Linked DNA regions of Homo sapiens: regions 1, 3 and 4 are each linked to region 2. The links come from fine-mapping of genetic effects on gene expression. A gene starts in region 2. Each other region holds a variant in brackets. All regions are shown on one strand. Distances are from middle to middle. Region 1 overlaps SLC24A3 (solute carrier family 24 member 3). Region 2 holds the start of SLC24A3 (solute carrier family 24 member 3). Region 3 overlaps SLC24A3 (solute carrier family 24 member 3). Region 4 overlaps SLC24A3 (solute carrier family 24 member 3).

Region 1 (8,107 bases), 49 kb after region 2:
CAGGGAGTGGCTGCTAATGGATGCAAAGTGTCTTTTTGGGGTGATGAAAATATTCTAAAATTAGATGATGGTGATGGTTACACAACTCTGTAAATATATGAAAAACCATTTAATTGTACACGTTACATGGGTGAATTTTTATGGTACTGGCTGGGTGCAGTGGCTCACGCTTGTAATTCCGGCACTTTGGGAGGCCGAGGTGGGCAGATCACTTGAGGCCAGGAGTTTAACACCAGCCTGGGCAACATGGTGAAACCCCATCTTTACAAAAAATACAAAAATTAGCCGGGCATGGTGGCATACGCTTGTAGTCCCAGCTACTTAGGCGGCTGAGGCATGAGAATCACTTGAACCCAGGAAGTAGAGGTTGCAGTGAGCTGAGATCATGCCACTGCACTCCAGCCTGGGTAACAGAGCAAGACGTTGTCTCAAAAAAAAAAAAAAAAAAAAGAGAATTTTATGATACTTAAGCTATGTATTGATAAAGCTGATAAAATAGTTTTTATAATTATTACATGTTGAAATGTTAATATTTTGGATATATCAGGTTAGGTAGAATATATTATTGAAATTAATGTCACCTGTTTGGTTTTACTTTTTAATATGTCTGCTAGAAAATCTGGAATTCATGGCTCGCATTAGATTTCTGTTGGACTGCTGCACCGAACCCTCTCTAAGGACCTTCCTAGTTCCAAAATTATATTCTTCCACAAAACGATCCCTAGGTTTGGACTTCTGATGACTCATCTGGTATCATGGCTATGACCCAACTTGAAAAAAGTTCATTTGGGTCTTTTTGAAAACCATTTGCAAAAATAGGTTTTTAAAGAGAAATCCTGAAAGGAGGCACAGAGTCACATAAGGCGAGCCCAGGAGCTGGGACCATCACTTTCTCCTGCCTCCGTAAGCAGCCTGGAGCCATCTACAGCTGTGGATGGGGCTGTTTCAAAAAATCTATAGTCTAAGCCTGAACAGCGGTTTCCTTAATCGATCCTCCTCTCAGACGGTTGACTCCGCTGAGACTGGCCCTGCTGGGCATCAGGCCCAGGAGAATGGGCAGTAAATTCCCAGCTGGCGTCAGCCAAGAACAGGTGCTTGGGTTTCTCATATCTTTATGGTCTGGGGGGAGACCAGGGAGGTGCCTTTGAATCCCCAAAAGGCTCAATGTCAAAACACAAATCTCGGCCTCCAGTTGTACCTCCAAGGAGGGCTCAGGATGATGTTGGGAAGCATCTTTTTACCTTAGTTCTCCTGCAGGAATTAATTAAGAATGCCTGTTATGTTTCCTACCTTTTTCTGGGTGCTGGAGGGAAATTCAGAAGTCTCACTTATATCTCTTTTCAGAGCAGCTTGACTCCTGCAAGAACCAGAGTGTGTTCATGTCCATAAAAACCAAATCCAACCAAACACCCTCCAAACTCCTGGATATGGTGTGTATTTCCATTGGGAGCTTGAGTCTTTCCTGTTTACTCCTTCTACTGCTTCTTTTGATTTTTATATTTTTAGAGATAGGGTTTCCCTCTGTTGTCCAGGCTAAAATGCAGTGGGGAGATCATAGCTCACAGCAGTCTCAAACTCCTGCACGTAAGCCGTCCTCTCATCTCAGTCTCCTGAGTAGCTGGAACTACAGGCACACGCATCACTGTGCCCAGCTCACCTGCTTCTTAAAGGCTGGTAAGAGTCTGAGCCCTGGGGCTGTGAGCCTTTATCAACCTCTGTTTTCTGCAGCACCTGCACTCAGGTAGTTTCCTGTTTGGAATGCCGTTCCTAAACTGGCTTACCTCCCTTTTCACCTGTTTTCATGTAAACAGCTGATAGAAGCACCGCCATCCTGGGGAGGCCCAGCTGCAAGCTCCTGGAGGCGGGCACCTTTGCTGCCTCTGCCCTCACAGCTCTTCTTCCCACCCCATGAGCTCTTCTTCCCCATTCCAGGCTTTGGGCAAAGGCAAGGGGAAGAGAGCTTTTGGTAAAAGCCACTCTGAACATTTTTCCAGAAAACTGGGCAAAAGCAAACTTCTTTGGGTACTGGGCATCTTTTTAGATGATAATTAGAAATACAGAGGAATAGTAATAAACTATAATGATGGTGGGGTGCCGTGGCTCACGCCTGTAATCCTAGCACTTTGGGAGGCTGAGGTGGGCGGATCACGAGGTCAGCAGTTCGAGACCAGCCTCACCAATATGGTGAAACCCTGTCTCTAATAAAAATACAAAATTAGCTGGTTGTGGTGCACGTGCCCATAATCCCGGCTACTCGGGAGGCTGAGGCGGAAGAATCACTTGAATCCAGGAGGCGGAAGTTGCAGTGAGCTGAGATCGCGCCACTGCACTCCAGCCTGGGTGACAGAGTGAGACTCTGTCTCCAAATAAAAGAAAGAAACTATAATGATGAGGCAGATATAAAAGTGAACATTTTCCTGTGGCTTTTCCACCAAGCACTGGCTTTTCAGAGAACTCCAGAGAACAAGCAGCAGACAGGCAGCTTGTGCAGGGTCGATCAAGCACAAGATAAGGCCAGTGTCTTCAGGAATCAGAGTGGTTTGTGAGACACTTAAGCAAATTGCATTCAGGCCCTATCTCCTTCTGGCAATAATTCACCAGAGAAATGAGCCATTTCACTAGAAGATTTCCATTTTAATATTAGCACAGGGACAAGCCTTGTTTCACAATTAAATTAGAGCCAGGTAAGTTTTCTAGTAATAGTGATATCTCGAGGAAGGATTGAAAATAGAGCTGCTCAGAGATAATTTGCTTCTGAGCCAAGTTATTTCATGGATCTCCCAGGAGGACATCTTGCTGGTATGGCTTTGCTACTGAGGGGAAGCCCTCCAAGCCCCTCTGATGAAAAGATAAGTCACACTGCAGGTCTAAGAGGAAATGAAACGAGTGTGCAGCTTGAGAGACAGCGAGGTGCTGGGACACTCTGACTCCACCGTACAGATGTCTCAGGAGCAAAGGACCCAGCATGCAGGAGCTTTCCTTCTGGAATGGGCTGCTTCCGTCCGCCTGACACCTCTAGGATGTTGTCTTGTCAACAGTAGATGTTTGTCATATGCTTGGCCATGTGTTGGCACCATGTCACTCTGCTGGTGACAGTTCAGGACCAGAGGCCTTTAATCATAGTAGAAACAGTCTCAGAAGTGGAGCACTGCTGAGTGGCAGCGACACCTGAAGATTGGCGACCAGGCAAGGTGATGTGACCACAGTGGCCACATGGCAGCCAGTCATGGCCACCCCTGGAGGGGTTCATGGAACACATCGAGCTTGACCGCAGCCCTTGCTGTTGCATTGATCTTTCTTCTTATCACCCTCAGATACTACAAGAGGGTGTTATCAATATTAATGTACCACTGAGATATTGGAAACATTGTTTCTCCCCCAACATTATATATGAAAATGTTCAACCATACAGAAACATCAAAACAATTAGACGGTGAACATTCAGATACCCACCACCAGGATTTCACCATTAACATTTCACTCTATTTATAGTTTTTTCCCCCTGTGCTATGGGAAAATCTCTTTTTAATGTTTCTATCATGTTTTCCTTTTAACAAAGTAGGTCTCTCCCTCCCATGTCTCAGATGGAAACATTGAGGGGAAGATCATGCCAAATACATAGCATGTTAGTGAAGCCAAAGAAAAAGAATCCGTATGCCCTGAGATTAAGGTAGCAAAATATTAAGGGAAGGTCTCTGGAGTGGGATCTGGAAGGTGGATACCAGGCCCAGCTCTGCTGCTGCACAGCCTGTGAACCTGAGGTGATCAACTTCATCATTGTTATTTTTTCTTTTTCTCTTTTTTCCCATTATATTCAAGATCACCTCTATTCTGCCAGGATGGTCCTAAGGCTGACATTGGGCTAATTGTTGCCTGCAGTCTAGTCCTATGCAGAGATAACAGGTAGCCTGCGACCTTTGGCAAGTTGCTGGACTCGATTCTGAGCTATTGATTTCTTCTTTTGGAAGTGAGGATAACAACACCCAGCTCTCAAAGCTGTTGTAAGGTTAAGTAAGGTGTTGAGATGCAAAAAGAAAGTACTCAAAACCATGCCCGGAATGAGGTCAGCATACTCAGCATGGCAAATATTATGACTCCTAGTACACATATTCCCTTGCCAGTGTCCAGCACATAATCTCCCTGAGGGTAAGGTAAGCACTGCTGAAGTTAGAGCTGTGTTGTATTTAGAAATAATAATAGTAGCAAGAGCAGCAGTTATTGTAAAGTAAAACTGAACTGAAAATGAAAGAACTCGAGATACAATTTCTCAGTTCACAACATGTGCATCCTCTGCATGAATTTGTGAAAAGAACTGCTGCACTTGTCTCTATAGAAGAGCGTGTTTGGTTTACTGCTTCCCAAAAAAGATTGAGGCTATGAGACTGCTGTCCTCCTCTGCCACCCTTTGCAGAAGGCCTGCGAGGCATCATTGCTGTAGGCATCATTCTCAGTATGAGATGTGGTTACTGGAGCTCTGCCTTCCCAAGTTAGGT[A/G]ACCCCCTCCGGCATGGACCGACACGCTCCTCTTACTCAGTGACTTCCTGTTTATCATCTGGCGGTAGACAGCCTGTCATTGGAGAGGATGGGATCAGGTCGAGTCACAGATTCAATGTGTTTCTAATGGGAAACCGAATCAGGGTTGCCTTGGAAGCAGGACATGGCAATGAAGACTTTCTATAGCCCCTCAGAAGCCCCAGCCCCTCCTCATGAGGCTCAACCCTTGCTTCAAGCTGCCTTGCAAATCAGACACCACCTTTCACAGTGCCTTTTCTGGCTTCACTGAACCTCTCTGAGGCAAGGAATCCCCTTGGAAAGATGGGAATTTATTCCAGAGACTCCTCGTTCTGGTCTGTCCTCCCTCTCTACTGCAGTTTAGAGCTGAGAGGTGCTAGAGCTGACTGACAGGCTGTCCTGATGGAGACATGATGTGAGGTAATGGACAATGGACCCCCAAGAAGGGGGATGGGGACTTTGTGGTGAGCATTCATTGTCCCAGTTTTATATTTTACTTTACTTTTAGAGACAAGGTCTCACTCTCTTCCAGGCTGGAGTGCAGTGGTGTGGCATGATCACAGCTCACTGCAGCCTCGAACTCCTGGGCTCAAGTGGCTCCCACCTCAGCCTCATGAGTAGCTGGGACTACAGGTGTGCATCACCACATTCAGCTATTTTTTTTTAATGATTTTTTTTTTGTAAAGATGGTGTTTTGCTGTATTGCCCAGGCTGGTCTTGAACTCCTGGCCTCACGCGATCCTTCCACCTCAGCCTCCCAGAGTGCTGGAATTACAGACGTGAGGCATTGTGCCCAGCCTTACTGCCCTTCACAAAAATATCTGTGTCCAAGCTTGCTCATATATGGAACAGTCCACACCTGTGTAGCGCCAGCTTCCAGGAAGAAGTTTATGCATTCGTAAGGCCACGTAGGTCCGAAAGTTGCAGAGCAGTAACTTAAACCAAAGTCTGGTGTTTCTCATGACAATGCTTATATCTTCTTAACAAAAGGCTTAATCTGACATATAAGTCATGAGGCTTCACACTGTCAAAAATAGAAAACAATGCAAAATGCTTGATGTATTGGAGATTTATCAGCAGCTGTTTCTGCAGGGAGTGTGGGTGTCAAGGCAGGTAGGATCAATGGGACAGTGATGTCATCAAGGACCCAGTGTTGTTTTCTCCTTTCCCTCCCTTCCTTATGTTAGCATCATTCCCAAAGAAGCTTCCTCCATGGTGGCAAAATGGCTGCAGCAGTTGCAAGCATCGCCTCTATACACAGAAAGAGAGAGAGGCCGGGCGCGGTGGCTCACGCCTGTAATCCCAGCACTTTGGGAGGCCGAGGCGGGCGGATCACGAGGTCAGGAGATCGAGACCATCCTGGCTAACACAGTGAAACCCCGTCTCTACTAAAAAACACAAAAAAATTAGCCGGGCGTGGTGGCGGGCGCCTGTAGTCCCAGCTACGCGGGAGGCTGAGGCAGGAGAATGGCGTGAACCCGGGAGGCGGAGCTTGCAGTGAGCCGAGATCGCGCCACTGCACTCCAGCCTGGGCGACAGAGCGAGACTCCGTCTCAAAAAAAAAAAAAAAAAAAAAAGAAAGAGAGAGAAATAGGACATCAGTAGCTCTCTCTGATAAAGAGGGCTTTATTCTCAGAAGCCACCAGCAAACCTCCCCTACCATCTCATTGGCAGGAATGGGGCCACTTACCTCTCCCTGAACCAGTCCCTTTGGTCAAGGAGATGCCATATGCTGATTCCCCCAATTGTGCTACAATGATGATGGCCCATCCCTGGAACTAAGGTAAAGTCAGGCCACCCCTTCTCCCCTTTCTCCATAACTTTCTGCTGCTACTCAATGGGGACTGGTGGAAGGGATCTTGAGAAAAAGACAATGTGTGTGGTATCTATGATGGGGACATTTACTAATCCCACCCACTTTACACTAACTACTGCTCTTGCTCTTACGATTATTTCTGAATGTAATACAGCTCTAACTTCAGCAGTGTCTACCCTCTGTGAGATTGTGTGCTGGGCACTGACAAAGCTGCGTGTGTCCTTATAGTCACAATATTTGCCCCGAGCCATTTGCCCTTTCACCACCCACTCATCCTGCTGCCATGGAGTGACCGTATGGGATTCCAGAAGAGACAGACACGCCCCTTTGTTCCTAGAATCCCTCGCTCCATCACCCACTCCAGCCTTTGTGTGTGTGTGTGTGTGTGTGTGTGTGTGTGTGTGTGTTTTCTGTTGACCCCCCCACGTTTGTTCCTGTTTCTTTCACTTTTAGAAACAATGGAAAAGGATTTTCTTTCTGGCTTCCCATCAGATGACTTGCTGACCTTGGCTGGTAGTGGCTGCAATGAGCAGGGTAGCTCACAGCATTGAGAAGGGAACAGTCTCATGTGGCTTTGGAGAGAGAATGTGGGCTGGAGAGAAGGAAGCAGAAAGCCACGCAAAGAGCAAACTGTGAAGAATGAGACAGAAGCCCTCAGCTAGGGGCACACAGCCAAACCTACATGCTGAATATTGCTTGTTTTCAAGGGGGGACGTTATTGGAAGTCTGCACTTAGATACCAGTGCTCCTTGTCAGGAGTCTGAAAAATAAAAAAAGCCTGATTATTTAGGCAAATGCCTAATCAATTAGAAATATAGGGGTTCACTAGGGATGAGAGTGAGAGAGGCGTTGCTCTCTGGCTGAAATATGCAAAGCAAGCCTCCCCGTTTCTCAGGCGCAGGTGGTGGCCAGGAAAGTCCTGCTTGCATCAACCCCTCCTGGTCTGACTGAGCCACATCCTCTCTCCTTTCCCTGCCTTCCCTTACCTATCAGTGGATCTCAGACTCTGGGCTGAAACTGAGAGGGCATGGATCTATCTTTCTTTCCATTCAACCTTGCTATTCTCCTATTGCTGGTTTCAGTTCCAACTTGGAAAGTTGCAAGCAATGGGCCAAAGAATAGGAAAAAGTGAGAAGAATAAAGTGGCTTTGTGTTTAAACGAAAGCTTCACTGCCTATCCTCCCCTCAGTTCTGTCTTTCTCACTGTGAGGCATCAAGAGGATATTTTAGTTCTGGTGTCAAGTTCCAATGGTGAAAGGAGAAGAGAGAAACATTATCAGAAAATCTATGGGCCAGGGGCGGTGATGGCTCAGACTTGTAATCCCAGCGACTTGGGAGGTTAAGACAGGAGTTCGAGACTAGCCTGGGCAACATAGTGAAATCCCATCTCTAAAAAAAAAAAAAATGCTTACTGTGGTGGTGCACGTCTGTAGTTCTAGCTAGCTAATTTCCACCACTACACTCCAGCCTGAGTGACAAAGCAAGACCCTGTCAAAAAAAAAAAAAAAAAATTATCCACTTCTATGGCTCTGGACCAAACACATCTTCCCACTTGTTTTAAGAGACATTGTTTCCAAGATGAGGTCAAGGTTACCTTCAGGGCTGACATCACTTGGTGTCCCTCAAGACAGACCCTCGGCTCTCCTCTGGTGCCAGCCTCAGGTGCCATGGGCAGTTCAGTGTAAGCTCAGACTCTCATTGCAATACAGCATTGCCCCAAGCATACGCTATGTGTCTCTCTGCTTCCTGGCTCAGGGCCTTCCTGAGAGGTGGGAGCCAG
Region 2 (8,107 bases):
ATTTGATTGACAGGATCCTCCATGAGTTTGTCATGGCCTGGGTGTGACTCTTTCCTGATGGAACCTATTCTACTTTCCTCTCATTTAGAGAAAAAGGAAATGGGTTGTACTGACTTTTGCCATTAAAAGCTGCCTCAAGGTCTAACGCACATTGCAGGAATTTTTCTGTGCTTGTCTTTGACAGCTTGGCCCCCTGAAGTTTCCCAGTGGACCTGTTGTCCTGCAGTTTCCCTTGGGCTCCTCCTTATGTAGTGTAGCTGGTTTGAGAAGCAGCTGATGACTGTTTCAATTTCAACTGAAGTTCCTTACAAAACTAGCCAATCTGGGAGGTCATTTGTCTCTGATCCAGATGTAGTGGTTTGATTATTCTTGGCTTATACTAAAGTTGGAAGGGAACTGAAGCATCAGGTGAAAACCACCTACACCTTCACAGTGTGAAAAAGAACAAATCACAGCTATGCACACCACAATGGACAGACATCACAAAAACGAAGATGGGCAAAAGGAGCCTCCCTTTATCTGAGGTTCAAGGACAGGCAACAATGATCTAGGGTACAGGGTTGGGAAGAGGCACTATCTCTGGGGAATTATTGCCTGGTGAGGGGCTGGCACAGGGAGACTTTCAGGGAGAGCAGGAAATGTTCCATGTCTTGGTCTGGAACCTGTGAGGATGTATACGTATATACAGAGTCATTGAGTTAATGCTTAAGCTGTGTGCGTTTTGCCTCATGTATGTTATACTTCAACACATTTTCTTTTTTTTTTTTTTTTCTTCTGAGACAGAGTCTCGCTCTGCCACCCAGGCTGGAGTGCAGTGTCGTGATCTCGGCTCACTGCAACCTCCACCTTCCGGGTTCAAGAGAGTCTCCTGCCTTAGCCTCCTGAGTAGCTGGGATTACAGGCATGCGCCACCCTGCCTGGCTAATTTTTGTATTTTTAGTAGAGACGGAGTTTCACCATGTTGGCCAGGTTGGCCTCGAACTTCTGACCTCAGATGATCCACCTGCTTCAGCCTCCTAAAGTGTTGGGATTACAGGCGTGAGCCACCGTGCCCAGCCAACAAATTTTTTTTAAAGGCAATTGTGAATCTGACCATGGTCAACTAGGAAAAAAAAATCTATAGTCATATTCATGTGGTGAGTTAAAAACCAAACAAATGCACACAGTTCAGCAAAAAGAATATTCAAAATTAAAAACTCTTATAAAATAAGCAGTCTATTTGAACTCCAGTCATAAACTGATCACCAAAAATAACGTGAGCCCACCTTGCAGACACAATGCTCTCAAAAGAGTAATTTTTTTTTTTTTGTCCTTCAAAATACAGCCGGCTCAGAAAGTGTCTGAAGAAGCAGTTTTCCTGGCTTTTTGATAAAGACGGTGGACAAGAATGGGCGTGAGAAGAAATAGTTGTTAGGTCTTCCTTAGTAAGGATGGGCTTTTGTCCAAGTCTATGTGACTGTGCAGGTGCAGGGGTTTTGTCTGGAGGTGATCAGTGCTATCAGTCTAATGTCTTCCTGGGCTACATTTGAGTGAGGCAATGACAGGAAGCCTGGCCCTTCAAGTCCTAGGCAAGAAGGGGATGCTGCATACAAGGCCTGTTCTAGGCATACTCCATGAATTTCTCCCTTTTATCCCCCATCTACTAACATTTGGTCTCACTGTGCTTAAAGGTTTTCCATGAACACCCAGGGGTCTTTCCCCTCTGAGCTTGGGCCAGGTCTCCTTGTGTTATGAAACAGCCATGGTGAGAAAGCTGATGTCTCTTTACCAAGAAAGTGCCTTTTCTGGTTTTCTCTTCCTCTCTCCTCCTCTCTTCTAAATCAATGGCTTGCCTGCCACACCTGGGAATGTTTGGTGTTGTGGAGACATAACCTTGCTTTGTCCTGGAAACTACTCCATGAGGTCTGTGAGCTGTGGTCAGCAGGAGGCTGGAGAGCTGGAAATATCACAGGAGGGCACCGAGCTGCACCTAGTTTGGCCACAGACGAGGTCCCTTTCACTGGCTGGTGGATGATCTGGCCTGGGCTGAGAGTTAGTGAATATAGTCACGGGAGGCTTTCTATTCTTTGTCCTAAAGGTAGAACTGTGAGAAAGACTAACCAACTTTATTCACCACATCAGGTCCAAAGTCTCTGCAGGGACCTGAAAACAGAATGTTTATGGAAGGTCAAAACAGGGGGAGTAGACAGTGACCCCAGAACCCAGCCCAAGGTGGGGAGGTGCTCTGTAAAGACACCTGTCTTATTCCTGAAAGGGTGAAGACCCCCACACATCTAGGAGTGATGCCTCTCTCTCCAGGAAAGAAATACTCTCAGACTGAAGTATCAGAGCACATTCTTCATTTCAACTCTTGCTCCTTTCACAGTTCGGTTTCTGGAGGGAGCTTCCAAAGACTGAAAGGGACAGGTAGGAAAAAAAATGACTGTTTTCTTTGGAGAGGAGCTCCTGAGGCCTGTCTCACTTGGCCATCACCTGGGGGGCTGAGGAACCTATCAGGTCTCAGTTGCTGTCAGCCTAGGGACCAGGATCCCCACCTTTCTTCCCTAGGTGGTGCCTGGCCGCCCAAGGAATCACTCTCTGTGCTTTACTTTAACAGTGCCCTTCACTCCAAAATCTGTCAAAATGAATAGAAACCCAAGAATCATTTCTGTGTGCCACAGGAGTGCTCTCCCCCGGCCCCCCCGCCCCACCCCGCCACACACACACACATACACTCCTGGTGCTGAGATAATTTCCAAGAAATTACCAGTTCCTGGTTATTCTCCTTCCTCCTGGCTCCCTTCCTAACTCCCCCTCCATCACCAGATTACACAATTCCTTGAGCCTATGGTATTTTCCCCTGGAGCTTGTGTTCATTTCCTAACTCAATTAATTCCAGATTCCCTCTCTCACCTTCTATTTTCCCTCGTTTTCACTAGAAAACACTATTTGAGTGACTTTCCTGGTTAGTTGAATTCTTCTCAGCTCCTAAACTTTCTTTTCTGTGTCTGCAAAAGCTTGATGGAGATAACACAACTAGAGAATTCTCCCCACACACTCCAGCACGGATGAACTCGTATTTTTACACCCTCCTTAGTATCTGCAGCCAAAGCAAAGGGAAAACCACTCAGGCATTGTGGGGGAGGTACTCTGAGTGTCTGGAAGATGCCAGGCTGAGAACAGCAGTCATAAATGATATACCCACAAAGGAAAAGTCTCTGGTCTCCCTGGGTGAGATGGCCTTTCTCTGGAAAGGAGGCCACCTATAACCACTTCCTTTGCCCTTTGCTGTGACCTTGCTGTCCCCGGGCGCTGTCAGGGATTGTCTGGGAGGAGGTCGGGGGGGGTAGGTCAGTCACAGGTGGGGACACATTTGAACAGACCTAGACAGGGGAGCCTTATACAGAGGTTCTCTGCTTCCTTCCCACCTCCTTAGGGTATGAAGCTAGATTCCCTGATCTGAATGGATTCCATGGAGACAGTCACCTAGACAGACACCTGGTTTCAGGTGATCCCTTTCTGGACAAGGTCTTTTGTTTTCAGCGCCCCCCCACCCTCCGCCCCAACAATGGCATCTCCTCCTCAGCCCAGCCAGCAGCCCCAGGCTAGCATCTGGGAAGAGTCCAGGGAAGCCCAATGAGGGAGAGTGGGCTGTGTCTGGGATGGCCAGGGATCCCCTCCAAATGGGCACCTGCGGCAGGTCGTGAGTCCAGCCATCTCTAGGGCAGCCCACACCTTCAGCAAGGAGGGGCAGGAGACCTAGAATGGGGGAAATGGGAGGACTAAGATTCTAACGTTGGAGGTAGGGCAGGCTGGTGTTACCTGCACAAGGCCAGAAGCCTCTTCAGGCCGCCTCTCCAGGGACCGTGCCAGCTGTCCCCACTTCGATCAGCCACAGTATTGGACTTGGTCCAGCACGAACAGAAAGCGAAGTGTGAGCCCAAGACAGAGGGGGGAGCCGGACACCCTTATGGAACTAACAGCCTCTGGGGAGGCCTGTTCCAGATCCCGAGTCGGGCGCACAGGGGGATCCCCGCAAGGGGGCAGAGGGAAACCCGGGAGGCCCGCGAGAAGAGGCGAGGCCAGAGGCTGGGCGCGGGCAGCCAAGCGCACTCGCGGCGCCCCGACTCCAGGTAGCACGTAGAGAGGAGGCTGAAGAGCCCCTCGGTTTTCCGAAAGTTTCCAGCGAATCCTTCTTGGTGAAGATCGGCCTCTGGGAGGCAGCGTGTGTGCTTCCCGAGAGGGGGCCCCCTGCGCCGTCCCTCTTCCCCTGGCACAGAAGGGTTGAAGGACTGCACACAGGGATCCCTCCCCAGCCCAGTCTCCTCCCAGCGCGCCCCCTCCCCGCCATGCCGGCCAGCGCCGGGCTGTGTCCCAGGCACTGCCCCCCGCCAACCCTGGCCCGACCAGCCTCGCCGCTGCAGGCTGCCGGGAGCTGCGCTAGCTCATGCTCCCAGCTCGCTCGGTGCTCCCTGTTCGCTCCGGCCCGGCCCCGGCCCCCATCGCGCCGACCATGGAATAGGCGGGCGGCCCCGCGAGGCGCTCCTGCAGCCGGCGAGGCCAGAGCCAGTCCGGGGTGGCTTTGCCAACCGGCGGAGTTGGCCAGCGGCGGGCCCTCCTACCGTCGGTCCTTCCCCGCTCCTCCTCCTCTGCCCCCTCCGCCCCCGCCTCCCGGCCGCCCCCGCCGCCCCCGCCGCGCCGCCGCCCCAGGCCGAGCGCGGGCGCGGAGCGTGGGAGCCATGGCGCGCGAGGAGGAGCGGGACCCCGAGCGCCGGGAGGCGGCGGCGCGGGCGAGCGGCGAGGAGGAGGAGGAGGGAGGGGAGGAGGGACTGGGCGATAGCGACGAGGAGGGCGACGACGAGGAGACGGGCAGCGGCGAGGAGGAGGAAGAGGAGGCGGAGGCGGCGGCCGGGTGGGAGCGCAGCGAGGACGCGCGGCTGCTGCGCGCAGGGCTGCCTCCTGCCGCTGTCCCCGCCGCGGCCGCCCGCGACAGGAGCGGCCGCCGCCCGCCGAGGCCGCCGCCCGGCCGCCCGAGGATGCGGCCGTCCGGCGACGAGGACCGCGCGCGTCGCCGCCGCCGCCGCCGCCGCCGGAGGGACCTTCTGCTGAGCCAGCTCTGCTTCCTGGCCTCGGTGGCGCTGCTGCTCTGGTCGCTGTCGAGCCTGCGAGAGCAGAAGGGTGAGTGCACGCTGCCTGCCCCGAGTGGGCGCTGCGGCTCCGGCGGCTCGGGGCTCCCGGGGCTGGGCGCGGGGCTCCTTCGGGCGGCCCGGCCGGAGCCCCAGGATAAGCGGGCTGGGTTGGCGGGGGGAGTGGGATGCCAGGCACGAGGACTCCCCCTGCCCCACGCAGAGGCATGGAGGTGGGGACCCTGAGCGCCAGCAGCCAGCAGGCTTAGGCGTCTGGCCGCCCTGGGAACATTTACCTGTGCCCGCCTGTGCGCTGCTTACTCGCGAGCTGGAGGTACTGCTGGTGGCGGTGGTGGGGAGTCTTACTCTCCATCAGCCCCCAAGGCCAGGGATAAAGTTGTGGTGGTAGACCCGGCACCTGTGCAGGTGACCACCTGTATACTCCTTGGCTTGCTGAAGGATTCAAGGGGACTGCTTAACACACAGTTGTCCGTATGTTCTCCATCCAGAGAGCAGGCGGGATGGCCCGAGTAGAGAGCTCTTCAACCCCCTTTCAGAACAGGTGCCGGGAACTTCAGGGAGAGAAAAAGTGTTGGCCCTCCAGCTATGGGCTAGTAGGGGACTTGTTCTCCTAAAATGACCACTCACTGGGAAGACAGGGAATTCTTCCTCAGAGGTCCCTTTTGCAGAGCTGCTGCTGTGGAAGAAATGGTTTGCAGTGGACCACGCATCACACTGTCCGCTCCTCTACCGGTGCTCTGCGCAAAGTCTGCCCTTTAACCCACAACTTTTGTCTTGTCTTTGTCCTTGGCCTTTCTTGAGCTGAAATAGATCTTGTGTGCTCCCAACAGTTGTCTGCTGAAACAGCTTCGATCCTGGGATTCAGCTGTCTATAAAATGAAGGAAAAACATGGGAGAATAACTGTTGTAAAATGGTTTTATATCCCGGCCGTGGAAGTGGCACGATTAGTGGGAAAACAGCCATGTAAAGGGTTGTGAGAAAGAAACAAAACAAAACAAAACAAACAAACAAAAAAACAGTTACAAGTATGTGCTGTGGTGTTGAGGTCGACGTAGCTCTAATGCAAGATGTCATGAGGTGCAGAATAAAGACATTTTGATAGTCACCGTAAAATATTTTCAAAGGTGCCATGAATTTAAAAAGGGATCTCCCCCAGCTTGGCTGGTCTCCTGCTTGGTGGGGAAGTGAAACAGGCGTCAGTCTTCATTCAGTCTTAGCAGACCGCTTGACAGACTTCATCATTTATGGTAATAGCAGAGAGTCCGTCTTGGTCTTCAGTGAAGCTGTTCAAGACTCCACGGCTCTCTCCATTGCTCTCCTGGATCTCAGATCCCGTAGCCTTGGGTTCTGACATCAGGAAGGGGGCCGTGCCGGTGTGAGGGAAGCAGAATCTCTCCCAGGGCAGATTCACATCTGCCAGACTTCTGTCTACTGACAGTCTCACTAAGGGGGTTTTCCCGAATCCCATTTTTATTTTCCTTTTTTATTTTTCTCCAGTGAAAAACCAGTTTATAGTTCATGCCACCTTTGGAAAGGGCTATTCCTAGTGGATTACACGCTGGCCATTTTTTTCTGGTATGTTGGGGCTCTATGAGACATAGAGTTCCCACCACTTTCAAGAATATAAAAGACATTTTTTTCTGGGTGAAGGATGTGACTCATATAGTTAAGTCAATCAGTGACAGGGGGCTGCCTGGGCCCTGAAAAGCTGGGATTTGGGAGGAGAGGAGGCCAGACACTCTGCAAACTTGAAACCTGGGGACTGGAATGTCATTTTGGAATGGTTTCCCTGGTAGTGACATTTCTATTCAGGTGCCACTGACTCAGATTTAGTTCCATAGCACGGCCTTTTCCGCATCCCTCCCTCTGTCCTACCTTTCTCCTTCCTACCTTTCATATTCTTTTTTCCTCTCACTTCCTCTTCCTCCCTTCTCATCTCTGTTGGTCTTAGGACCCCTCCACACCCCAGTAACTGAAGATCTAACAGGCAAAAGCCAAATGTTAAGGAGGATGCCAGCCAGCCTCCCTGTGTTGCCCCCGAATGACATATGAGTTGAAATGGTCTCCAATCACTTTTTTTTCCGTTAGGTATTGATGATTTTGGTATGTGATGCACAGTAGTATTTTGCAGCAAGACACAGGTTTTTCTAGATAATTTTTAACATATTAATTAATGTGTGTGAATCTGCAAATGATAATTTTGCAAGGGGAATTGTCGTTTGGCACACGTAAGCATTTGAATGGTGACTTTTACCCTGGAAACTTGGAGCACACACTACCTAGTGGTCCTTTGGTACAGATACTGAAGTTTGGAATGGAGCATTGTTTCGAAGACCTTGTGGTGTAGAGAGGCTGAGTGATTAGCTTAAAGTCACACAGCATTCGAAGAGTAGAGGAAAAAACCAACCTGAGGTAACCTGGTTTTTTGTTCCCTACTCTGTCCTCATATTCAAACCACCATTTGGGTGTAGCTTTGTAATATTTATATAATCTCATAGGGGGTACCTTCATAATGATCAAAGGTAATATTTTCATTTAGTCACCTTGAAAGCCATGCAGTGATTGTTAAATGTAACTTCTCAGAAGCTCGTTTTCTAACACATATTGACCTTTCCCTCCCTCCTTCCTTCTGTTGGCCCTTCCTCCCTCTCTCCTTCCTTCATTCTTTCTTCCTTCCTGCTCCCTTCCTTTCTCTCTTCTTTCCTCTTAAAATGACAGTTCTTTTACCAAAGCAAAATAGAGATGTGTGATAATTATATTATATGATGTTTCATAACATTTCTAATCATATGGAATCCAAGATCCCTTTCTAGACATCTAACGAAACTCAGATTTGGCTATGTACTGAAAAGTTTTGGTTATATACTGAAAACATTTTCCACATATTCAGTATTTGGTTATATGCAGTAAGAATCTACATTGATTCTTTTCTGCTGAGGTGTAACATGAGGTCTGCTTAATTTAGGTCAGGAAGAATTAG
Region 3 (8,107 bases), 120 kb after region 2:
TGTGTCACTCATTATGTGTTCTGGAACATAAGGACAAGGAACAAAGAAGGAAAAGTCCTTCCATGCATGGAGTTTCCATTGGGGTGGTGGGGGCTGGTGGTGAAGACAAACAAAAACATGCACAAATAAATGTAAAGTATGCTCGAAAGTGATACAGAAAAAAAATGAACAAGGTGAGAGGGATGACAAGTTGGGGGGAGTTTGGAGGGCTTGCTTTTTAAGGCCAAGGTTGAGGTGACATTTGAGCAGTCTCTGAAGGAGGGAGGGAGGGAGCCATGGAGAGTTCTGAGGAAGAGCATCCAGGCAGAGGGGCAGCAAAGGCCAGGGATGGAAGCACGCTTGGTGTGTCCAGAGAATGGCACAGAGGGTCAGTGTGGCTGGAGCAGAATGAGGGAGGAGGAGAGGAGTTGGAGGGACGTCAAAGGTCGTGGGGAACCAGGTCTCTTAGGGTCTTGGGGGCTGGTGGAGGTCTTCTGCATTCACTGTGGAGTGGAGAGCCGCCTCTTGCTTCCTGTGACCAGGCATACATTGTTAAAGGATCAACCAGAATGTTGGATTGATAATAAAATGTAGTGGGCAAGAGTGGAAGGTGAAAGACTCCAGAGAGTATTATAATAATGGTGGCTCAGTTCAGAGCAGTAACAGGGGCAGGGTGAGGCGGTATCTGATTCCGGACATGGTTTGCCTTCTTGCAGGATTGACTGGACATGGTTTGAATTGGTGACAACACCCTGAAGGAGTGGATGTGGGTGAGAAAGAGCAATAGAAGACTCTGCAATTCCTGGCCTGAGCAGTTGTAGGAGAAGGTGAGGGGCGGGTGGAGTGAGCTTCATGGGAGACCGGGTGTCCTGTGTTGGAAGTGCTCATTTTGAGATGTGTCCTGGGTGTCCCAGTTGAGATCATGAGTAGGATGATAATAAGAGTGTGTGCATCTGGAGTTCAGGCTGCAGGTCAAGGCTGGAGATACCAAGGGGGGACTGGGAGGAAGACAGAAGCTTATATTGACAGCCATGAAGTGGAGGGGATTCCCCACAGGAGCAAGCGTAAGCAGAGAGAGGACTAAGAGCCCAGCCCAGGCTCTGCGAGGAGCCAGCAGAGGAGGCTCGGAGGAGCAGCCATCGAGGCGGGAGGAGGATCAGGAGAGGTGGCCTGAAAGTTGGGCACCAGGGAGGCGGGAGTGAGCAGTGGGTTGCAGGCTGTGGATGCATCAGGCGACTCCAAGGCCATTAGTGACATGGACAGGAAGAGTTGTGGTGCTGGTAGGAACAAAATTCTGATTGTAATGGGTCCAAAAGAGGATGGAAGGGGAAGGATTGGAAGCAAAGCAGATTGATAACTCTTTTTAGTTTTGCTACAGAAAGGTGAAGTAGTATAGTAGTTCATAGGGAAAATGGGAATAAGATTTTTTTTTTACTGGTTAGAAATAAAACGAAAGTATAATAATAAAAAAAGAAAAAAGCTTGTTTTTATGCTAATGAAATGGTTTCCTGTTTACCTGAATGTATTGGCTTTACAGAGTCTTTTTTCTATTCATATTAACTGATCTGAATCCATTTCTTGCACTCCTTCATTACATGAGCATACCTTCCCTCCTATCAGTAGAGCCGGTCATTATTCCTATAGGAAACACAACGAGATGCTCTCAAGTCCAGTTTAGTTCAGCTATTCCTTGGGCACTTATAAATCATTTCATATGCTCAAGAAAGAAGTTTGTCACATTACTTTGGTCATTATAATGTTTGATTGTTTTATTCTATCATGAAGCTATGAAGGCTATTTTGTATGCAGTATTATTGAATTTGTTGCCTAGTTTGCAGGGCAGTGAGATATATTGTGGATTTATTCTTCTGGGAACAGATAAGATCCCTCCTTCTGAATCTTCTGCCCCAGAAATATTTTTCCCCCTTCATAGCTAAGTGACTCAGGTGAGTTAGTTTGTGGTTGAAAACATGTTCCTTGATTCCAAGTTTGCTGTTTGCTTCATCTCATCTACTTAATACACAGTGAGTGCTAGCCTTTTACCTGTGCTATTTGAAGGTCAAGGCTTTGACCTTGGCAGCATGTGGGGACCCTCTGTGAGCTGATGTATGTGAAATTTTGCTTGTTCCAGGTTGGAGGCCTGCCATGTTACTGGACACCCCTCGAGCTGGTTGGAATTAGTTTTAATCATCTGCAGTCTCTACACATGATTTTAACTCAGAAGGGCTCCTTAACACACATCACAGACCATTTTACACCATGTTTATTGCAGCAAGAGTCTGGGGCTAACCAGATGACACACTCGTCTTCTGAAACAAAATCGTGCCTTAGGACGGAACCATCTTAGTTGCTTGCAGGGATGCGGTGCTGTTGTCTCCTGGCCAGAGGTTTCCCTGGGCAGGGCTGGGCTGAGGAGGGCCTCCAATCGGTGGGTCTGGACCTGCTCAGACTCCTCAGGGCTGGTTTCTCTTTGTCCCAGAGGAGGTGGTCAGGGACAGTGAAGAGCTGTGGCTGAGCCAATTAAATGGCCCCCAGCTGTCCAGGGCCCTGATGTGGGAGAAACGCTTATTTCCCCATTAAAGGGGAAAAAGGGCATCTTTGAAGCAACCAGGATTTTATGAATGTACTTAAAAATTATCCTCTTTTATACAGAAGCCATCTTGAAAGGGCTCTCACTGGCCAAATATGGTATATTTCAGGAGAGGAGATAAAATATAAATCTTGGGAAATAAGAATCCATGATTTCATACTTATAATAAATAGATAAAGCAGTGGAGAAGCAAATGTGGAAGGAGGAGGGCTCTTGCTTTCAGTAGAACACTGACTATTAACTGCTAAATGTGGAGAAGGTGCTGAGTTGGAAACTCATAATTTTGTAACTATCACAGTAAAGATTGGTCTGATAAAAGTCATCAGTAGATGCAAAATCCATGGGAAAGTTTTGATGAGGATATTTGCATGGTCTTCAAATGCCTCTCATAAGTGTACAGTGGGTAAATATGACAGCACCTTGACTGAAACTTCCTTGTTAAAGTTAACATCACCAAGGAGACCGATGGTCATGGTGCCCTCCACATGTGATACACCTTCCTTTCTGCAGTATTCTGGCAAGGAAGGCATGACTTGAATCTAGTTATGAGGAAGCACCAGAAAAACCCCCAATGAGGAACATTCTATTGAAGCAAGGGACTGTG[T/A]TCTTCCAAAATGCTGAAGTTGTGAAAGACAGGAAGGCTGAGGAATAGCTCCACATTAGAGGAGACCAGGGAGGTGGGACAGCTAATTAACCACACCTGAATCAGATCCTGTACTGGAGGGAGAAGTGCTTTAGTGCATATTATCGGGTCAATTGACAGTTTGAAAATGGACAGAAGTTTAGATAAAAGAGTTGTATCAGTGATAAACTTACTGGAATTGATGAGTGTGCTGTGGTCATGTTAGGGAATTCCTTTATTCCTGGGAAATAAGCATTGAAGTATTTAAGGGTGAGGGGCAATGATGCTTGCTACCTACTCTAGAACAGTTCAGGAAAAATGGTATAGATAGATGGATGGATGAGTGGTGGACAGATAGGTAGGTAGGTAGGTAGATAGAGTAGATATGATTGATAGATGGATAGATAGGATAGTTGGATGAATGCATAGATAGATGATAGAGAGAGATAATAGATAGAGATAGAAATGATATAGATAGATAAACAGAATGCTAACAAAAATGAGTACAATATTGACAATAGGTGAATCAGGGTAAAGTGTTTATGGGAGTTCCTTGTACGATTGTTGTAATTTTTCTACAAGTTTGAAATTACTTCCCTGCAAAAAATAGAATAAATAAATCAGGCCCCCTTTTTATTGACTGATTGATGCCTTCTTTCAGGATTGATTGGGCATTGGTCCATCTCAGGCCCCATCTTTCATGCTGTGAGCCACACAGACAAGCTCCTGATTCTCATGAAGCTTCCATTCTAGGGGGAGGTGTCAGAATTAAGGAATAAACAAAGAACAATTAGAAAGCATCTGATTTTGATCAGTGTTACGGAAAAAGGGAATGAGGAATAGGTCGTGATGGGGGTCGATGGGAGGCGTCCTTTGGATCAGGAGCCATGGGAAAAGGAATTTGATTGAGGGAAGGAGTCATTCCTATAACCAGCCAAGGAAGAACATTCCAGGCAGAGGGACCAGCCGCTGCAAAGGCACCCAAGCCGGAGGGAGACGGAGGTGCTTGAGGAACACAGAAGGACATTGCAGCTGGGGATTAGGGAGAGAAGGAGAAGAATTGGAGCGTCTTGCAGGGCTGGACCATCTAAGGTCTTGTCTGCCATGGTAAGGAGTTTAGATTTTATTCTAAGTAGCAGAGGGAGTCCATGGAAGGTTGGAAGAATGAAGTGACATTAATGAATTCATGTCTCCATATATCACTCTGATTATTGTGTGGAGCTTGAATTGTAGTGGGACACTGAGCAGGAACAGAAGCCAGTGGGCCACCGCTGTGGCCTCTCTGGGGACACAGCCACCCCCTCAACAGGGAGCAAGGCAGCTCCCTGAGCCCCCTTGCCTTGTTTCCCCTCGCCAGCCCTCACCCTCATGGGGTTGATGTCTTTAGGAGTATAGCATGATTCCGGCACACCATCTTTTTTTATTTCTTTTATATCAACACATGTCTTTAGTGAAGTCACTCAATGCCTTTCAGCAACTCTAAAAATTTACCAGGTTTCTTTTTCCAACATTACTTTGACACATGCCAAGAATGACAAAAATGCATCTCTCTTCAACTGACTTCTTTCTGCTGTTGAGCTGCCTTCAGTCTTGAGCACTGGGGAAGAATAAATAGAAACCCAGAATGGGACTGAGGAGACCCAGTTCCACAGGGAGAAAACCACCTTGAGGTTTCAGAAGGGTATTTGGGGGTTCCCAGCGCTCCCTAAAATAGGAGAGGTGGCAAGAGGACCTTGGTCCCATGAACACTCCAGCACTACATGGGATACTCTGAGGACACAGAGGCTGTGGCTTTTCTTGCCTGTTGGTGGGTTCTCTTCTCTGCCTCTATCCTGTGCTACCAGCCACCCTCATTGAGAATTTGGAATTCTTAAGTCTAGGGAGCCAGGACAATTTAGGGAGGATGCTCTAAATAGCTTTCTGGTTTTGTCTCCTCCCAGGGTCAGATGAACTGAGGTTTTTCTTTAGCAGGCTAAAGGGGCTGTGTCTGGGTTCTTGTGGCTAATAGAGGGCTGTTTTGTTGTGGGATCATCCTGCCAGAAACTGGGAGGGCCAGGGAAGTGTCCTTCAAAGCTGTGAGTGATTCTTTAAAGAGGGGCAGTGGTTGTAAACCCTTCACACTTCAAGCCATGTGGCTGTCTGTCTGTTTATCTGTCATCTGTCTGAGGAGTGAGGGGATGTGTAGTGGGACAGTGGGTGTCCCTGGAAAGAAATTTATCCCTGACATCAGTAGTTGTGGTCAGACATTCAGTTGGTTATGAAGAGTGGTACCCTTTTATCTTCCCCCCTGGACTTAATATTTATCTGCCCTAATGCATCTGTTCATTACAACCAGGGTGCTCAAACTAGGGGCTGAGAAACAGATTCTGGTGGGAGCTTCAGTGGCCCCAGCAGATGCAGGAGTCTTAGGGGGAAGTGACAGATTTGGCCTGTTGCAAAGAGCGGTGTGGGAAGAGAAGGGAATTGTTTCACCAAAGCGGTTTGTGGTATCAGTAATAATCAGAGAACTAGGGAGAAACGAAATTTTTTAAAAGAATACATTTTTGTGTGGGAATTTGTATTTCGTTGAGCAAACAATATGTTACTGGTGAGTCCAGTCTTGCTAGTGTGTGTGTGTGTGTGTGAGTGTGTGTGTGTGTGAGAGTGTGTGTGTGTGTGTGCAGTATAACTGATTATTTTACTGCCCTGGGGATTAGGTGAGTTGATGACTGAACACGGTAATTCTGAAAAATGGAGGGGAAGGAGCGACATTAGTATAACGATTGCATATTCTGTTGCCTAGCCTCAGTGCCAGTAAATTGTCCTCCACCACACATGACTTGGTCTTTGATTTTTGAATGTAGCCATAAGGTTCTTAAGCTGGAATAATGTGTGAGGTCAAACTGCCTGTTTCCATTTATGGTGAAAGAAGACAAGAAAAGACATGGTTGTGCATCCTGTGAGTATACTAAAAAAGGGTGGAATTGTACATTTTCAATGGTTAAAATGTATGACAGGTGCATTATATCAGAAGAAAAGCTGTTAAAAAAAAAAAAAGACAGCAAAGAGAAATAGACAAGTGTGACTATGAAGAAATCAAATTGTAAAAGTCACACAGGAAACAAAACATGTAAATGGGTGGTCGTTGTCTCCGTGAGTATGGTCCGTTTATCCTAATGACTTGTTATTGGCCAAAGGTCCTGAGAGCCAGACTGTGGGAATAGCTTTCAGAGCCTGGGATGTATTCCCTTCAGTATTCTCAGTGCAGTCAAATGTTGTCCTTGGAGAGTGGCTTGATTTTTGGAGATAGCTAAAATAATTCAAAAGTGGGTTTGGTAATTAAATAAAATGATCAAACTGAGAAATATCAACACAGTAAAAAAAATAAAGAGTGCTATGAAGCATACAAAAGTATATGAAGTATATCAACACAGTAAAAAAAAAGAATTCTGTAATGTAAGGCAACAGACTTAATTTTTTTCTGAGCTCTCATATATTGATTCCATAAGTGATCATCTTTTTCACTGGTAAAGTTGGCTAGTTTTCAAACACCAAGATTCAGTGCCAACATCAATGTGACTGTCTTACAATTTGTGAACTACCAGTGAAGTTCATTGTCTTAGGTGGGTTCCTAAAGAAGGCAACCCAAGTCAAGCCAATTAAGGGAATTTCAGCAAGCAGGTGATTGCTGTGGGCAGCTGGGACTCATTGCAATTTGGCACCTCTGGGAGCCTCTGTAGGACACGCCTCAGAGCTCTGTAAGCCAGGAAACATGGACGCTGGGGGGCTCATCTGCTGATTCCCACCTGCCATTCGCTGAGCCCTGCTTCTAGGGGTGTTTGTTGGCACTGCTGGCTTGACCCATCCTGCATGTGGGCTGAATGTCCCCTCCCAGCCAGAAACTAAGCATACAGACACAGGGTTAGCATGTCAGTGGTGAACAGCCTCTGCTGTGCCATATGCAGGAGATAGGCACAGAGCACTGCAGCACCTGGTACTTTAGTCTGAATCAGAACTTTCTTTGATGATGGACATATTCTCCCTCTGCACTGTGCAGTAATATAGCTTGAAATAGGACTGGAATATGACTGAAGAACTAAATTTTTAATATTATTTAATTTTAGTTTAATTTTAAATAGCTACATACGGTTATTGGCTACCATCATGGATAGTGAAAGTCTAAATAGAATATTAGAAAATGAATCCCTCAAAGTCTCATAGTCTCAAAGTTAGGAATTAAGAGGGCTAGAATGAAATGAGTGGTGTCCACGGATATATATCCACTGCCCCTTAAATCTTGTCTTTTCTACTTTAGCTGGATGGGTTTCCAGCTTCTCTTAGCCCACAGATAGGACTTTGTGTGCTCAGCTGAAGATAATTGCTAATTAATGAAATTCAACAGTTTTTTCGAGGACCACTGTAGGAAATTGCTGTGGCCCTGCATCCTAGCTCTGCACACAGAGAACAGTAATTGCTGGAGCCTTCAGTGATAAGGAATTCATTCCTGTAGGACTGCCCAAGTGCTTGACTTAGCCCAGATAAAGGCTGCTCAGGTAAATATTGTTGCAAGGGGGTTACTGGAATTATGCCTCCAGCTCAATGCCCATATTTGAAGATAGTAATGGTTAGGCAATTTTGCCTAGTCCTTTCCAGATTCAGTGTATTGACCAGCTCTTGACTTTTAAGGTGAAATAATTGAAGCTGGCAATCAGATCACTGGGTCAAGGGTATTCAGAAGATTATTCACACCTGTTTCTGAAAAGCATCCTGCATGATCAACAATTCATTTTAAATTGAGTTAGCATCAATTAACTTGTATTGAAAATGGGTAATGATGATGTAGAACATACATGACCAGTGTGTGGGATATTTGACTCATTTCATGCCATCTTTCTCCCTTATTTTGCCCAAGACAGACATTGCTAATCAATCACAGT
Region 4 (8,107 bases), 130 kb after region 2:
GGACTAAAAGTGCTTTTCCTAGTACCTCATACATATTAACAGTCCACACATCGGCCGAGCGCAGTGGCTCACGCCTGTAATCCCAGCACTTTGGGAGGCTGAGGCGAGCGGATCACTTGAGGTCAGGAGTTCGAGACCAGCCTGACCAAAATGGAGAAACCTCGTCTTTACTAAAAATACAAAATTAGCCAGGTGTGGTGGCACATGTCTGTAATCCCAGCTACTCAGGAGGCTGAGACAGGAGAATCACTTGAACCTGGGAGGTGGAGGTTGCGGTGAGCTGAAATCACACCATTGCACTCCAGCCTGGGCAACAAGAGCGAAACTCCATCTCAAAATAAGTAAATAAATAAATAAATAAATTAATTAATTAATTAAATAAAAGTCCACACATGGTAGTTCTTCTTGAAGCAGCATGTTTTAGTAAATAAGATGATGGACTTGTTATGAGCTCAGAACAAGCTCATATTTGCCATGTGTCTTGGGGAAAGATTCTCCATTTATGCCTTGGGAACCCTATTGTTATCAGTTAGCTACAGCTGTATAACAAACTACGCTAAAACATGGTCGTTTCTAACGCTAAGCATTTACTATGGCTTATGAGTCCATAGGTCAGCTGGGCAGTTATGTTGCTCTGGGCCAGGATCAGCTGGTGGTTGCTGAGCTTGTTCATGCCTCTGTGATCATCTGGTGGTCAGCTTGGGGCTGGCTCGATTAGGATGGCCTCTCATGTCTTGTGGTTGGCTGGCTTTTGGCTGGCACTTGCCTCTCATCACTCAGTAGCCAGTTGAGACTTGTTCATAGGGTGGTGGCAGGGGTGGCACAGCATCACTTCCTTCAATTATCTTGCCCATATCAAGTCACAAAGATGGCCCATCTTCAGGGGATAGAGGCACCACAGGATGGGAGGAGAAAAATCCAATTGCAAAGGGCGTGGATACAGGGATGAATGGAGAACTGGGAAGAAAAAAATGTTGTAATTATCTATCACATTGGCCCCTTCACCAAGATGGTAAAAAATATACTGTTTTCCTTTAATAGAAAGAAGCTATTAAATAAAGCTTTTCATTAGGAAGTTTCGCATGGCAAAGTCAAGCTCTCCCCTGCCCTGTCACTCTTGCTCTGGCTTTGGTCAGCAGAGCCTCTGACATGGCAGGAGGTTAATTTGGGTCCTGCCTCCCAGGGTTTGTCTCTTGTGTGACAGGGTCAGCAAACCTTGGGGCCTGTTGGCTGGTTGCATATCGGATTTCTTCCTCTGACATTCTCACAAGTTCCACAGCCCTTGGATTGGTTTATGAAGGAGCCCTCATGTCCTCCACTTCTCAGACGTGTGGAACTCCCTGAGGCTGTGTCTGCAGATTGCCACTGAGACCACTTGAGAAGTGAGAATCGTGTCTGCTCAGTGCATTGTCTTGGCCTCTGGGATCAAGGCCTCCTGTCCAACCTGCCCATATGATCACAATGCCTGTTCTATTTCAGCCAGTTGTTTGGATGAACTGTTGAGATGTATGAGGCATTTAAGAGCTTGGCTCTGGAGTCAAATGCAATGTGGAAATCTGGCTCCTTTACATGCAGATGTGACCTTGGGCAAGATGCTGACCTCAAGGGACTTCAGGTTTTACATCAATAGAATAGGAGTAATAACAGTGCTTATGATATGGGGCTGCGAAAATTGCATGGGCTTGAGAAGCACCTTACCTGTGTGTGTGGAATAAGCCCTCACTCAATGATAGAGGTTATTAGCACGATTATTTTTATGACTCTGACCCCACCATATATGACGAGTTTCACCTCTTCAAAGGAGTCTCTATTACCTTTTTTTAAGGCTGGGAAGGCTTAGTTTTAGCACATCCATGGGTTGTCACAGAGATGTCATTTTTGATTCACACAGGGATGTTCCACATTTTGAATGGGATAGCTGGTCCTCAGCAAAGGGACACTGCCAAGATTCGGAAGAGCTGTGAACTTGCTGAGTCGTGGAGAAGCATTCTTGGACACATAGCCTGACTCTGTTTGTAATTAATTTGAATGCTTCCAGAGCTTCCTTTTATACCCTCCCTGTTGTAATTCCATGGGGAGTTCATCGGGCCGAAGCTGCAGTTCAGATCATTGCGTTCAGTGCTCATTCTTACCATCTGGGCTTCATTTGAGTGGAGGGCAGTTATTTTTTAGGTATCTAGTTTTTTTTTTCCCCTTGTGCAGCATCTGTGGGTGTTTGTACCGCAGAAGGAAGCATGTAAATAAATGCACTTGATGAAGAATCAGTAAGAATATTAATTCCTAAGCTATCACTCAGTCTATATAACCATTTGTAAAAGAGAAAAATGTCATTTCACTTATTTAGCTGTTCAAGAATTCTAATATTTCTCATTTTATAAGGAAAAGTAGAAGAAACAGGTTAGGAAGACTAAACCCAAAGTATGACAGTGCTAGAAGAAACAGAAATTGTTAAGTAAATGCTGGAGTTGCATTTCACATTGCCTCCCACATGGTGTTTTAGAGAGATACCACCCCGATCTACCTGCTGGGGAAAAGTGTGTCCTTAACCCAAAGCTTCCAAGTTTGCCAAGACTTGGGGGCTGAGGGCCAGAAACCAACCAGGAGATAGGGTACCAGGGTAACCTGGAGACAACCCTCATCAGATGCATGTGGACACCTCTCCAAGCCAGTAACATTTTACTAAGCATGTTTGATAAATTAGGCTTAACCAACAGCACATTGGGTAGAGAGAAGAAGGGAGGAAGGCAGAGGAATTCTAGAAGGAAAATGAGTGAGTTCCATATAATCTGCAAAAGAATTCCTTCTGGCAGTTTATGAAACGAGATGTTTGATGAAAGTAACATTCTAACCAGGACCCTGCACCTTGGCAGCCTGTCTTCTGTCTCTGGGACTTGGGGCATGTGGGGGATCCAAGGGGTGGGCTCAGGTGTTCAGGTTTGGGATGGTGTTGTGGATTGAATTGTGTCCCTTAAAAGAAGATATGTTGGCGTCTTAGTCCTAACCCCCAGTAACTCACAATGTGACCTTATTTAGAGATAAGGTTTTTACAGAGGTAATTAAGTTAAAATGAGTTTATTAGTATCGTACTAATTCAGCATGCCAGGTGTCCTGATAAAAAGGGGACATATGAACACAGACATGCACACAGGGAGCACTCCATGTGAAGATAAAGGCAGTTG[C/T]TGGGAGGCTGTGCCTGCAAGATGAGGAAAACCAAAGCTTAGCAGCAAACCATCAGAAGCTGGAGAGAGGCATGAAACAAATTCTCCCTAACAACCTCAGAAGGAACCAGCTTTGCTGACACCTTGATCTAGGACTTCTAGCCTCCAGAACTGTCAGAGAATACGTTTCCATGGTTTAAGCCAATCAGTCTGTGGTAGTTTTTGACAGCATCCCTAGCAAACGAATACAGATGGTGTCGTGATAAAAGGCGTGGATCTTCTCACTGCATCACCCCACTTTCCTGTTTCCACCATCCCCACAGCCTGGGCAGGGAGGAAGAGTGGGGTGAAGAGAGGCCATTGACAAAATTTGGGGATCAGGCATTCCCAGGTCCTCCAACATGAGGTTGGGAACCGCTTGGCAACTTAGATTCCTGTGTTTCAAATAAACATCCAGAAATAACATGATGAGCTCAGATTTCTGCCTCTTATCTTGTCATCTAGTTTTTCTGTTTATAACAAAAATGGTAATATGAAAAGTACAGTTGTATGATGTGATTTGTTGAGGGAGCGACACAGTTGCACAGGGTAATTTGTGTGCAGATCACATGTTATCCCCACCACGATGGAATGAAGGAGGTCTCATTGGGCCCCTTTTGTGAAGCAGCTGACTTGTACAGGAGGCAGTGACTTGTACACAGTGAATGATAGAACCACAGTTCAAGTTCAGGACTCTTGATTTGCTTGCATGTAAGCTCTTCCCTCCTACCTGTAGGATGAGTGCACCAAGGTCTGGCTGGGATGGCCCAGAGAGTTCTGAAAATACAGATGCCTGAACCATCCCCAGAGGGGCTGAACTAATTGGTCTGGGATGTGGTCTGGGTAGCGGGAGTTTTTGAGTCTTCCAGGTGGATACCCACCACAGTAGGCAAACCAGCAAAGCATTTTAGGTTGACAGCAGCCTGGAGAGGTTAGCTTATTCAGAAGTTCTCAGGGGCTTGTGACAATCCCCGGGAAAGCCATTCCTAAAATACAGATTCCTGGGACCTGCCCAGACATAACAGATCAGAATTTCCAGGAGTGGAGTCCAGGAATCTGTATTTTACAAAAGGCCCAGAGGTCATCTGAGGATCACGTAGGTTTGGGAACTGGACCTAGTCCATCCACTGTGCCTGTGGGGTGTGTTCTGGAGGGATTCTAGGCAGTAAAGCACTCTGTTGTTTTCACTTAAAGCCTGCGCTGTAACACCTTACCAGAAACAAGGTCATCTGCTTACTTCACAGATTCCAGGGGTAAATATAGTGTCACACTAGGAAGGACTCAGGACTCAAGACAGAGTAAACACTTCTTCACTCAGCAACTGGGCACAGCTCCCAGCCACCCAGGAACGCTAATTTGGCATTAAACAGAGACTTGCAGAAGTCCCCCAAATAGCAGCAGTTTCCCATCCTGTAGACCCACAGAATACAGCCTTTTTGATATCCTCTGTCTCAGTTCTTCATTCTGCAAATGAAGAAGTTGAAGCCAATGAAGGTATGACCATCTAATCTCTGTGACAGGCAGATCTTGGATGCCCTCTGCAATGGGCAGCTCCTAGTGCCAGCTGCTGTGTCCTTGTCATTGTCTCTGTGTGTTTCTGACCCTGGACTCATCTGGCTGCAATTCAGTGGCCACATTTGTAGATACAATACCTATTTTTGAAGTATTTTTGAAGAGTAAATGAGATAGCATTAAAAGCACTTTAATAGTTTATAAAATACTAGTTGTTGTTATTGTTGAAATGTCAGTTTGCATTAGATTGATATGGAAACTTAAGGTGGGGCACCAACTTTGATTTGTACCTGTAAGAATAGTCATGTAACAATATTGTTTGTGGATCTGGTTCCCTTTTGCCAGTCTTTAAAAAATTTCCTAATGCAATGCCCTATTCAGTGAGTTAAGCTAATTATCTATCTGTTCTCCTGGAGCTTAAAGCCAAGACAGAAAATACTGGCAGTGGCAAAGATGACTGGGCCATTGGCCAGAGTGGATCCATTGATAAATCCATTTTTATGTCTTGCCCAAGCACTGTGGGAAACTGGAACAGAACCATGGGACCTATACTCTGCCAGTGTTCCAAAAATCAGGTCCTAGGCATTCATCATGGCAAATTTCTGCTGAGTTGGCCATGTTAATCTTTGGACAGATCAGATGTTTAAGATCATATTCAATTATACAGCAATCATACATTGGAATATGGGAAACTCATTATAAATTAGGTTGTTGAATATTGAAAGACATGGGAATTTATTTATGACAACTGTTTTAGGTGCAAAAAGCAAGCTGCAACATGGAAATGTATGTACCAAATGTTAAGAAGGAGTTTCTAGTGGAAGAAGGAGTGTCTTTTTATTTTCATCTTTGTATCTCTTGGCATTTTTTAAAGAAATGCCAATTCTTCCAGATGAAGGTGGCTTGACGGAAGAGATAACGTCGAAGGTGGGTCTTTGATAGATGTATAAGAGTTTGAAAAGGCAGAAGCGCCGGGCACGGTGGCCCACGCCTGTAATCCTAGCACTTTGGGAGGCTGAGGCAGGAGGATCACGAGGTGAGGAGATTGAGACCATCCTGGCTAACATGGTGAAACCCCGTCTCTACTAAAATACAAAATAGTTAGCTGGGCGTGGTGGCAGGTGCCTGTAGTCCCAGCTACTCGGGAGGCTGAGGCAGGAGAATGGTGTGAACCCAGGAGGCGGAGCTTGCAGTGAGCCGAGATCATGCCACTGCACTCCAGCCTGGGTGACAGAACGAGACTCCATCTCAAAAAAAAAAAAAAAGAAAAAAGAAAAAGAAAAAGAAAAGGCAGAAAAATCATCCAGAGGAATGAGAGTAGCATTTGTGGAGGCATGGAGTAGTGAAATCCCATAGTTTGTTCTGGAACTGGCTGGCTGTTCCAGCTGGACCACATTCAGATGGCTGACTGGTTATCAAGGCAATGTACCACTGAGACTGAGAGCAGTTTGTTTGACCCACACAACCTGAGTTTGAGTCTTGGCTTTACCATTTCAATTGTGTGACCTTGGGCAAGTCAGTTTACATCACCTACTCTATGTGTTTTCATGTGTAATATGTGGATAATAAAAGGACCAAGGTATGGGGGAAGGTTAAATGAATTAACACACGTGAAGCAATTAGACCCCTCACCTGGAGCATAGTGAGTGCTTCATAATTTAGTCTATCGTATCTCATCATTACGGCAGATATTGTTTTGCACCCAGTAGAAATGTACAGCCTTACTTCTCTGAGAGTTGAAGGAGAAAAAAAAAATGGTGAGTTGGAAGTAATACTTCATGGAGTACAGGGTCTCTGTGGGGCTGTTTGGAATTGTGCAGACAGAGGGAAGACAGGAGGGCATTGCCATGAGAGGGTGGCACCAAGTGAGAGCAATTCTTCTGAGCTCAAGATTTAAAGCCAGTTCTAGTTGGAGCAGAAAGAGGGACTGGAAAGTGTTAGGAAATAATGTTGGATGCATTCAATGAAGCCAGATTATAGAGGGCCTTATGGACCAGTTGGTAGGCGTCTCACTCATAAAAAGGAAAAGGGGACTAGGACATGATTTTTACAGGTGATATACGCCTGGTGGAAATGTTACAGCATAAAGGGCCTGGACTCGGACTTGTTTTCTAAAGCCATCGGGTGATATTTCCTGTGGACCTCACCTGTAGCCAGTAATGATCTGGAAATATTTCAGACCTTAGTAATAGACCCTGGTTTCTGCACCTAGAAAGAACCATGGTGGACTTTTCTTCTGAACATTGGTTTCTGACTTGGGGAAAGCAGATGAGTATCTGTGAACACCTCCTCCTTCAGTGAATAAAGAGAACAATGGTGGATGATGGAAAGAGCAGTGAACATGTTGCAGCCACAATAAAGTGTATTGCTAATTCATTTTTTAAAATGTGTTTGTCTTCTTACTTTCCTTGATTTTTTACTACCACATTATTTTTGAAGTTTAATAATATGGTTGAGATATATGACTAGCTGGGTTTCTAGTGGATATGATACTCTGTCTCTGAGCAGTACTTGCGAGCATTCTGAATCCTAGCCTTTTACACCTTTAGATAGAGTGAAACCATAACTACATATGTACATGGCTTGGTCTTGGGTTGGGGTTCCCAAAGAAAAGACTCTGAGACTAGCATTTAAATTCAGTAGTTTATTTAGGAGGTAGTTGCAAGAGGCACTGGTAGCAGAGTGGGAAGTGAGACAGGCAAGGGCAGGAAGCCAAAAAAGATGTGATAATAAGTAAGTCACTTCTGTGGACAATGGGGATTCAACCCACTCAGTGGCTTGGGAGGCGGGGAGGACTGGGACACTGCAGACAGTATACCACAGGCTTGTCTCCCAAAATAGGTGAGAATACTGTGGAGCATTTATTTACCAACTCCTGTCTGCTATTGGTTGACGTTTGCTTCTGGAGAAATTAACTCCCCAGCACTCCTGGCTTCTCCACATAATGGATGGAGCCTGGTCTGTGGCCAGAGAAAGCTCCCAGACAAGGAAGATTGAATGCCAAGGGAAAATGTGTAGAGCACCTACTACTCCACGTCACATGGAGGGCTTAACAGTGAAAGTAATGGTGAGAAACTAGATACTTTACCCCTAAGATCAGAAATAAGGCAAAAATGTCCGTTCTCATCATTCTTATTTGACATCATACTGGAAGCCCTAGACAATGTAGTGAGACCAGAAAAGCAAAGAAAAGACACACTGATTTGGAAGAAAGAAATAAACTGGTTTTGTTCACAGCTGACACGATTGCCTGTAGAACGTCTCAAAGAATTGATAAAAATCTCCAGGAACTAATAAGTAATTATAACAAGGTTGCAGGATACAAAGACACAGGAGTTGATTGCTTTCCTATATGCCAGGAATGGAGAATTAGAAGAGTATAATTCTAACAAAATATA

The links. PIP is the estimated chance that this variant, and not a neighbour inherited with it, causes the effect.
Region 1: its variant is fine-mapped to the expression of SLC24A3 in fibroblasts (GTEx, PIP 0.94).
Region 3: its variant is fine-mapped to the expression of SLC24A3 in whole blood (GTEx, PIP 0.98).
Region 4: its variant is fine-mapped to the expression of SLC24A3 in whole blood (TOPMed, PIP 0.98).

The regions. Positions count from the first base shown.
Region 1 is chr20:19,256,339-19,264,445 of GRCh38, forward strand. The region is part of intron 1 of SLC24A3 (solute carrier family 24 member 3); the gene reads left to right. It overlaps SLC24A3-AS1 (SLC24A3 antisense RNA 1), which reads right to left. Exons shown (of 8, transcript NR_024564.1): 4 at 7,740-7,815; 5 at 5,371-5,535; 6 at 1,291-1,357. Among named protein-coding and RNA genes, the nearest start is that of SLC24A3-AS1, 24 kb to the right of the region's middle. RefSeq lists enhancers at 2,874-2,963, 4,633-4,682. The variant A/G (reference allele first, on the strand shown) is at 4,494.
Region 2 is chr20:19,207,828-19,215,934 of GRCh38, forward strand. It overlaps SLC24A3 (solute carrier family 24 member 3), which reads left to right and starts at 4,815. Exons shown (of 17, transcript NM_020689.4): 1 at 4,815-5,157. The coding sequence starts at 5,016. LOC101929547 (a long non-coding RNA gene) reads right to left here and starts at 4,641. Exons shown (of 3, transcript XR_007067549.1): 1 at 3,802-4,641; 2 at 2,237-2,614; 3 at 1-2,142. RefSeq lists an enhancer at 1-180 and a silencer at 5,166-5,215.
Region 3 is chr20:19,327,827-19,335,933 of GRCh38, forward strand. The region is part of intron 2 of SLC24A3 (solute carrier family 24 member 3); the gene reads left to right. Among named protein-coding and RNA genes, the nearest start is that of SLC24A3-AS1, 47 kb to the left of the region's middle. The variant T/A (reference allele first, on the strand shown) is at 3,174.
Region 4 is chr20:19,337,111-19,345,217 of GRCh38, forward strand. The region is part of intron 2 of SLC24A3 (solute carrier family 24 member 3); the gene reads left to right. Among named protein-coding and RNA genes, the nearest start is that of SLC24A3-AS1, 57 kb to the left of the region's middle. The variant C/T (reference allele first, on the strand shown) is at 3,180.